Homo sapiens: one gene and its partner. The protein of the gene in region 1 purifies or fractionates together with the protein of each later gene. This does not show direct contact. Each region holds a gene or a part of one and is shown on either strand. Other genes may lie near its edges.

Region 1 (3,974 bases):
ACAGCAGTAGGGCTACCTGTGTCAGGAATAAGAACCCCTTCCCCTCCCTTGTTCAGGTGTGCTCTTGCCATTGCTCCATCTGCGAGGGGCACCCTTTCTGCAGAAAGTAAAAACTGCCTTGCTGAGAAAATTAATGTTCGAGCACTATTTCTTTGTGGCACCAGAGAACAAGCATTGTGCATTTCTAACATAAGTTACATGCAGGGGCCACCTGCCCCCGGAGCCCAGGCCTGCAGAGGAGGGGGCCAGCCACACTGTGGTCCCCAGGCCTGCTATTGGGTTACTCACACGGGCTCTGACACAGGGAAGGAGGTTGTTGGGGTACGGGGTCAGGGCCACATCACAGGCCTCTGCGGAGATGACACCTGGGGCCACTGTGAACAACACTGGTGTGGATGTTGGGGCTTGAACCCAGCCCTGCCAGCCGGCCTCCGGAACCACCCTGTCTGCACCTCCCTGGGGACCATCTGGCGACGGTAGCTCACAGTGGTGCCTGCAGACACCCAGCCCCTTTGTGTGCCTACAGCTCTCTTAGGGACAATTTAGGCCCGGAGTTAGAACAGGCTGAAGCCTGGCATGTACAGTGAGGATGGAGGGAGACAAGGCACGGGACCCTCAGATGTGGGGTGGGTGAAGATGGAGCTTCCTAAGCTGCCAGGAGATGCGTCTGGACTCGTGGGAGGGCGGGAGGAAAGGGGCGACACTCGGGCTCACGGCAGCAAGAACCACACTCACTGCTGCAAGGCCACCAGAGGCCAACGCCATGCCCAGGCCGGAGAGTCCCGGGGAGGCTGCTGGTGGGCAGCTGACTGCGGGGACACTGGGTGGAAGCCTGGACCCTCAGCGACCTGGGCAGTAGTGACAGGCCAGGGGCCGGCAGCTCTCTGCAATTCCACCCCAACCAGCAGGGGCAGGGATGGCAGGGATGGCGGGTCAGGCTGTTGGACCCCTGCCCACTGTTGGCCAAGCCCCAGAGCGGCCTGCAGGTTCTGTGGAATAGCTACTACCTGCGTCCTTACCACTGCATCCAGGTCCTTCTGGCTGTACTGGAGCAGGTCCACTATAGGTCCGGTGGACAGGGGTGGGCCCCCAGGCGCGGGAACACCTGGGGGTGGGCCTGGCACCTGCGGGAGATGGGGATGAAACAGGAACCCATTTCGCCCTTGCCTCTTACCTCTGACCTAGTGTGAGGGAGGAAAGGCCCACACAGGCCAAGAGCCTCAGACAGTGCATGAGGGACCCGAGACAGTGCGGCGAGGGAACAGCACAGCGGCCCCATGCCCCCAACAAAACCAAAGGCTCAGACCCCCAGGAATAGAAAATATAGGCCCTTAAAACAACTCGTTCCCTCAGACCACACACAAGACAGTTCAAGAGGGACTCAAGGACTTACAGGAATGTCCAGTGCTCCCAAGAAATCGAACTCCACAAGCTTGGCTTCCCGCGGACGTCCTGAGGGAGTCTCATTTGCACCGTGCATGCTGCCACCAAGCAGAGGCAGCCTCAGTCACTAGGCCCTCCCAGTGTTGAGTAGGACACAGAGGACCATGTGGACAAGCTAACCGGGCTCTTTGCTTTTTAGTTTAAAACCACTCAAGTCAGGGTAGTGGTAGAAAACGCAGACCCGCATCCAGCATGCCCGGCCTCTCTGCTGCTCCGTGCCCCCCTCCCTCACCTGCCCATCCCACGTGGCTGCTTGTCCTTCCGGGAGAGCACGGTGACGCTTCATTACCCACTGCAGGCTGAGCGGAGCCAGTGCTGCCTCATCAGGGGGCTGTTCACAGCTCAGAGCCTTTTTTTTTTTCTTTTTCCGAGACAGGGTCTCACTCTGTCACCCAGATTGGAGTGCAGTGGCATGATCTCGGCTCCCTGCAACCCCTGCCTCCCAGGCTCACCCGATTCTCCTGCTTCAGCAACCCAAGTAGCTGGGATTACAGGCGCCTGCCGCCTCACCCGGCTAATTTTTGTTATTTTTAGTAGAGATGGGGGTTCACTATGTTGGCCAGGCTGGTCTCAAACTCCTGACCTCAGGCGATCCACCCGCCTCAGCCTCCCAAAGGGCTGGGATTCCAGGTGTGAGCCACTGCGCCCGGCCATGTGTTAGGATTTGAAGGCCACACAGCCTCTGTCACACTACTCAGTTCTGGCCTTGTAGTGTGAAAGTTGCCACAATTTGCAAAGGAACGGGCATGGCTCTGTGACGATAAAACTTTACACAAACAGGCAGTGGCCAAGTCTGGCCCACAGGTGATAGTTTGCTGACCTCTATTTTTTGGTTTTTTTTTTTTTTTTTTTTTTTGAGATGGAGTCTCACTCTGTTGCCCAGGCTGGAGTGCAGTGGCGCAATCTCAGCTCACTGCAACCTCCGCCTCCTGGGTTCAAGCAATTCTCCTGCCTCGGCTTCCCAAGTAGCTGAGACTACAGGTGCATGCCGTCACACCCGGCTAATTTTTGTATTTTAGTAGAGACGGGGTTTCAACATGTTGCCCAGGCTGGTGGCAAACTCCTGAGCTGAGGCTATCCATCCACCTCGGCCTCCCAAAGTGCTGGGATTACAGGCGTAAGCCACCGCGCCTGGCCTGCCGACCTCTGTTTTAGAGGAAGTACTCTTAAAAGATTTAAGTTTAGATCTTTAATATACCTAGAACGGTGGCTGTAACCAGCAAGGCAGCAGCCCTGTGGCTGGAGGGTAGGCTGCCGTTGCTCCTGCCAGACACACAAGGGCTGCTCTGGCCTTGCTGCCCAGCCCACCCCTAGCACAGCTCCTTTCCAGTTCTGATCATCTCCCCCCGGTCTAGAAGCCTCTGTGCAGACAGCACACCTAGGAACAGCCTCCAGTCTTCCCACACTCAAGGCTTCATGCATGAGGGAGGGCCGGCGCACATACCTGCTGGTCTCGGTGGCCACGGGCACTGGTCTACCAGGACTGTCCCTCAGGAGGGGGTCGAACTTGAGGTATAAGGACTGCTTCCTCAAGGCCGACTCCTTAAACTGGGGACAAGAGGGCAAGTGATCAGGTCTGACTGCCATCCCCTAACACACACGGGGGCTAAGGGCCAGGGAGGTCACCTGCACACTCCCACCCCCGGTCACCCGCACACTCCCACCCCCGGTCACCCACAACCCTGCCCGAGACACCACCATTCCCAGCAGCACAGCGTGTCAGAGTTTCATCCTGGGCTAGGCACCAGGTAGAGAGCCCTAGAGCCCTGCCACAGGACACCACTTAGAGGAGGTGCTGCAGAAGGGGCCCTGGATTCACAGCCCGCCACAATGCCTGGGCCTGTGTGCAGCTGGGGGGACGTGGGCACCAAGGGACGCTCCGGGGGCAAGACCTGCCGTGGCTGCTCTCGGACACCCTGTGGGTGAGGCTTCGCGGAATTGCCTGGTACCTACCGAGGAAGTTCCAAACTGCTCCAGGTAATCCACCTCCGCGCCCGTGCCTAGAACTGAGAGGAGTGAATCATGCCGCCGCCATCGCCCCTCACCAGGGCCCTAAGGGCGGCGGGCTGGTGTCTCCCTCAGCACTCAGTGAGGCAGGATCATTCCAGCCAGCAGTATTTCCTCCCTTGGAGGTGTGGATGTTCGGGGCCTGACTGCTGTCTGCGGCAGGCGCCTCCTGGGCACCGCAGGGTGCTGAGCGGCATCCCCAGCCTCTACCCACTCCCTGCCAGCAGCACCTCCAGGTGTGACAACCACAAACATCTGGGGAAAGGCGGGGGCAAAACTGCTCTGGTTGAGAACTATTAGTCTTTAAAATTACCCTAGACAAGTCTTTTAATTTTTGATAATATAACTTTTGATTAAAACTAAGGGTGGAGGCTGAGGCGAGTGGATCACTTGAGCCCAGGAGTTCAACAGGGCAAAACCTTGTCTGTACAAAAAATACAAAAATTAGCTAGGCGCGGTGCTGCACTCCTATTACAGGGAGGCTGAGGCAGGAGAACTCCTTGAGCCTGGGAGGTGGAGGCTGC
Region 2 (3,500 bases), on another chromosome or scaffold:
TTTTGGCAGCGGAGACAGACAAATATTGTGTTGGGCAGGGGTCACTGCTATGAAATGTGCAGCAGGGGATGAAAAGGAGAGAAGCGTTTCCAGCTAAGGGAGTGAGGGACGGCTTCTTGGAAGGGGTGACATCTAAGGAGAGACCTGAAAGTGGGGAGAGGCTAGGCCTGAGGAAGAAGCAGCACACAGGCCCGAGGCAGGAATGTGTCTGGCCTGCGGGAAGAGCAGCATGGGGGTAGGAGGTCTAGGGTCTGGAACAGAGTCCCCAAGGGACAGTGGAGCGGGAAGAAATGAGATCTGAGGACACACAGATCACGGAGGCCCTGGAGAGAACTTGGCATTGATTCCGTAGGAGCCTGGAGCCTTCAAGAAGAAGAAGAGACATCCCACCTTGTAGGTTTTTGTTAGTTTGTTTTGTTTTTTAGAGATGGGGGGTCTCACTGTGTTGCCCAGGCTGGTCTTGAACTTCTGGACTAAAGCAATCCTCCCGCCTCGGCCTCTCAAAGTGCTGGGATTACAGGCATGAGCCACCGTTCCCCGCCCCACCTCGTGTTTTAACAGGATCCTTCTGTTACAATGGGTATAGTGTTCCCTGGAGAGGGGCAAGACCACCCCTTGGTCACCCAGCAGGCGCCCTGTTCTCCGGCCAGTCCAGAGCCTCAGTAGGGCAGGGCTGCCTGGGAGAGCAAAGTGCAGCCAGGGCGGGGCAGCAGCAGCCCCGGGCTCCTGGCCAGAGTCGGCCCTGGGTGTGGGTGGCAGGTGTGGGTGAGGCCGAGGCCTTAACCCTGCCTTGCCAGGGGCAGCAGGAGCCAGAAACAGCCCCCGAGGCTGTGTTTGTCTGGAAAGGGCACCTGGTGTTTGGGTGGGGCCCACACAGTTCCCGGTGGTTAAGGCTTGGAAGCCTGAATTCACATCTTCACTCTATTCCTCAGTAGCTGTGTGACTGTGGGCAAGTCACTCAACCTCTCTGGGCCTCTAGTCCTCACCTGCAAAATTAGAATGAGTGGCTCTCTGGATAAGCTGCAGTGAGAATAAAATGAGTGACTTTGGGGGAGGGGCTTAAGGCCCCTGATCCACCTGAAATGCCTAGTAAGAGGGAGATGGCACAATTAGGTAAATTTGAGGGTCCCTACCCCAGGTCCCTACCCACAGCTGAGTCTGCCTAGGGACTTTCCCTGCCCTGACTTCCCAGCATCAGTGTCACACCCAGCCCCCAGCCCTCCTAGAGACAGAGGCTTTGCGGGGGGTGTCTAATTTCTGTCCCCGGAAACCTCTGACCACCAACTTCCCCATTTCAGGAAAAAGCCTGGTGTGGGTGGGGTGGGGAGGAGACCAGTGCTTCCCCTTCCCCTGTGTGACCTTGGGCAAGTCACTTCCTGTTTGAGTTCCTGTCTAGGCCTGAGTTTCCTCACTGGGGGAGAGGGGATTGAACCTCCCAGAGGGGCTGGTGGGAGGGTCCCGAGGGTTGTAGCTGTCCCGGGCCCCAGTGGTGCCCATGAGAGGGATGTTGACAGTTACTGAGCTCTCGGCGTGTGCTGGACGCTGTACCAAGCACTTAGCTTTTTTTCTTTTTTTTGAAACAGAGTTTCACTCTGTCGCCCAGGCTGGAGTGCAATGGCGTGATCTCAGCTCACTGCGGCCTCCACCTCCTGGGTTCAAGCGATTCTCCTGCGTCAGCCTCCTGAGTAGCTCAGACTACAGGTGCACACCACCACGCCCAGCTAATCTTTGTACGTTTTTGTAGAGACGGGATTTCACCATGTTGCCCAGGCTGGTCTCGAACACCTGAGCTCAAGCGATCCATTCACCTCAGCTTCCCAACATGCTGTAATTACAGGCGTGAGCCACCACACCCGGCTGTACCAAGCCCTTTAGGTGCCCAGATTCATGTGCCCCTCCCCCACTGCCCTGGAGGTGGGGACTGTCATTTTCCCAGTTCACAGGCAAGAAGAGGTCTTGAGTGGGAAGGTCATGTGCCTGAGTCACATGAAGTAGGTGGCTCAGTGGGGATTTGAACCCAGGTCTGGGGATATCAGCTCCTGAACTCTGCACCAGTTTACTGACACCTCCCACCCAGGCTAAGTCAGACGTTGCCTTTTCCAGGAAGTCCTGCCTGACTCTCCAGGCTGGGGCAGGCGTTCCTTCAGGGTACCCCCAGACCCTGGGCTCCTTGGTCCTAAACCTGGGTTGGTACCGTCTGGGGACAGCTGTGTCTCCCACACTGGACTGTGAGCCCCAGGAGGGTGGTGCCGGAGCTGTCTGGGTCACTGCTGTGTCTTCATCCCCAGCCCCACCCAATATAGGCCAGACACAGAGCAGGGAGTATCTGGGGAATGGCCGCTAGTGCCCTGGGGAGCCAGGCGAGGGGTGGGCAGCGGGAAGTCCCTTTGGAGGAAGAGCTCAGAGGTCTGGGATGGGTCCCCAACCTGCTGCAGGCCTCACACTTCCCCTCCCAAGCCTCAGCTTCTTCCTGAGCAGGCAGTGGTGGAGGGGGGTGCGTAGAGATAGGGAAACTGAGGTCAGGCAGGGGCTGGTCCCTAGTGCAGCTCTGGGCTCTTGGCCTCCTTCTGGCCCCTCTGTCTTCCCTCCTGCCCTCTGCTCTGCTAACCCGCATCCCCCCACTGGCATTGGCCTCGGCCTCTTACACCCCTCAGCCTGTCTCTCCATCTTTATCTTTTCCTTCTTATTAGTTTTGTTGTGTTGTGTTTTTTATTTTTCATTAAAAAAGTTTTTTTGTGGACTGGGTGTGGTGGCTCACCCCTGTAATCCCAGCACTTTGTGGGGCTGAGGCAAATGGATCACTTGAGCCCAGGAGTTCGAGACCAGTCTGGCCAACATGGTGAAACCTCGTCTCTACTAAAAATACAAAAAATTAGCTGGGCTTGGTGGTGCATGCCTGTGATTCCAGCTACTCAGGAGGCTGAGGCGGAGAATGGCTTGAACCTGGGAGGCAGAGGTTGCGGTGAGCCGAGGACAGCCCGGGTGACAGAGTAAGACTCTGTCTCAAAAAAAAAAAAAAAAAAAAAAAGATTAGTCGGGTGTGGTGGTGCATGCTTGTAGTCCCAGCTACTTGGGAGGCTGAAGTGGGAGGATCGCTTGAGCTCAGGAGGTCGAGGCCACATTCCAACCTGGGTGACAGAGAGCAAGACTCTGTCTCAAAAACAAAAATAAAAATAATAATAATAATTATTATTATTAGAGATGGGGTCTCACTATGTTGCCCAGGCTGCTCTGAAATGCTTGGGCTCAAGTGATCCTCCTGCCTCAACCTCCAAAGTGCTGGGATTACAGGTGTGAGACACCACGCCAAGACCATCTTTATCTCTTTCTGTGTCTGCCTCTTCCTCCAGGTCCCCTGTCTGCCCATCCTTTTTCCCCACCCCTCCCCCATCTGTTCATCTGTCTGTCTGCCTTCAGTCTGTCTCTCCTCTTTGTCAACCCGACTCTCCCTTTCCCACCTCTCTCTGCGTCTGTCTCTTGCATCTCGTTTGTGTGTTTGC

The links. The genes of interacting proteins can lie anywhere in the genome.
Region 2: the proteins of TACC3 (region 1) and VASP purify together in Homo sapiens (co-immunoprecipitation; 3 studies listed by BioGRID and IntAct, with this or other methods). This does not show direct contact.

What each region holds. Positions count from the first base shown.
Region 1 is NC_000004.12:1,734,748-1,738,721, reverse strand, and holds part of TACC3 (transforming acidic coiled-coil-containing protein 3), read right to left. Parts: intron 3,450-3,974; coding exon 3,397-3,449; intron 2,992-3,396; coding exon 2,888-2,991; intron 1,482-2,887; coding exon 1,394-1,481; intron 1,125-1,393; coding exon 1,020-1,124; coding exon of another isoform or gene 1,008-1,019; intron 375-1,007; coding exon of another isoform or gene 330-374; exon of another isoform or gene 1-329. UniProt on the Homo sapiens protein: Plays a role in the microtubule-dependent coupling of the nucleus and the centrosome. Involved in the processes that regulate centrosome-mediated interkinetic nuclear migration (INM) of neural progenitors.
Region 2 is NC_000019.10:45,513,979-45,517,478, forward strand, and holds part of VASP (vasodilator-stimulated phosphoprotein), read left to right. Parts: intron 1-3,500. UniProt on the Homo sapiens protein: Ena/VASP proteins are actin-associated proteins involved in a range of processes dependent on cytoskeleton remodeling and cell polarity such as axon guidance, lamellipodial and filopodial dynamics, platelet activation and cell migration.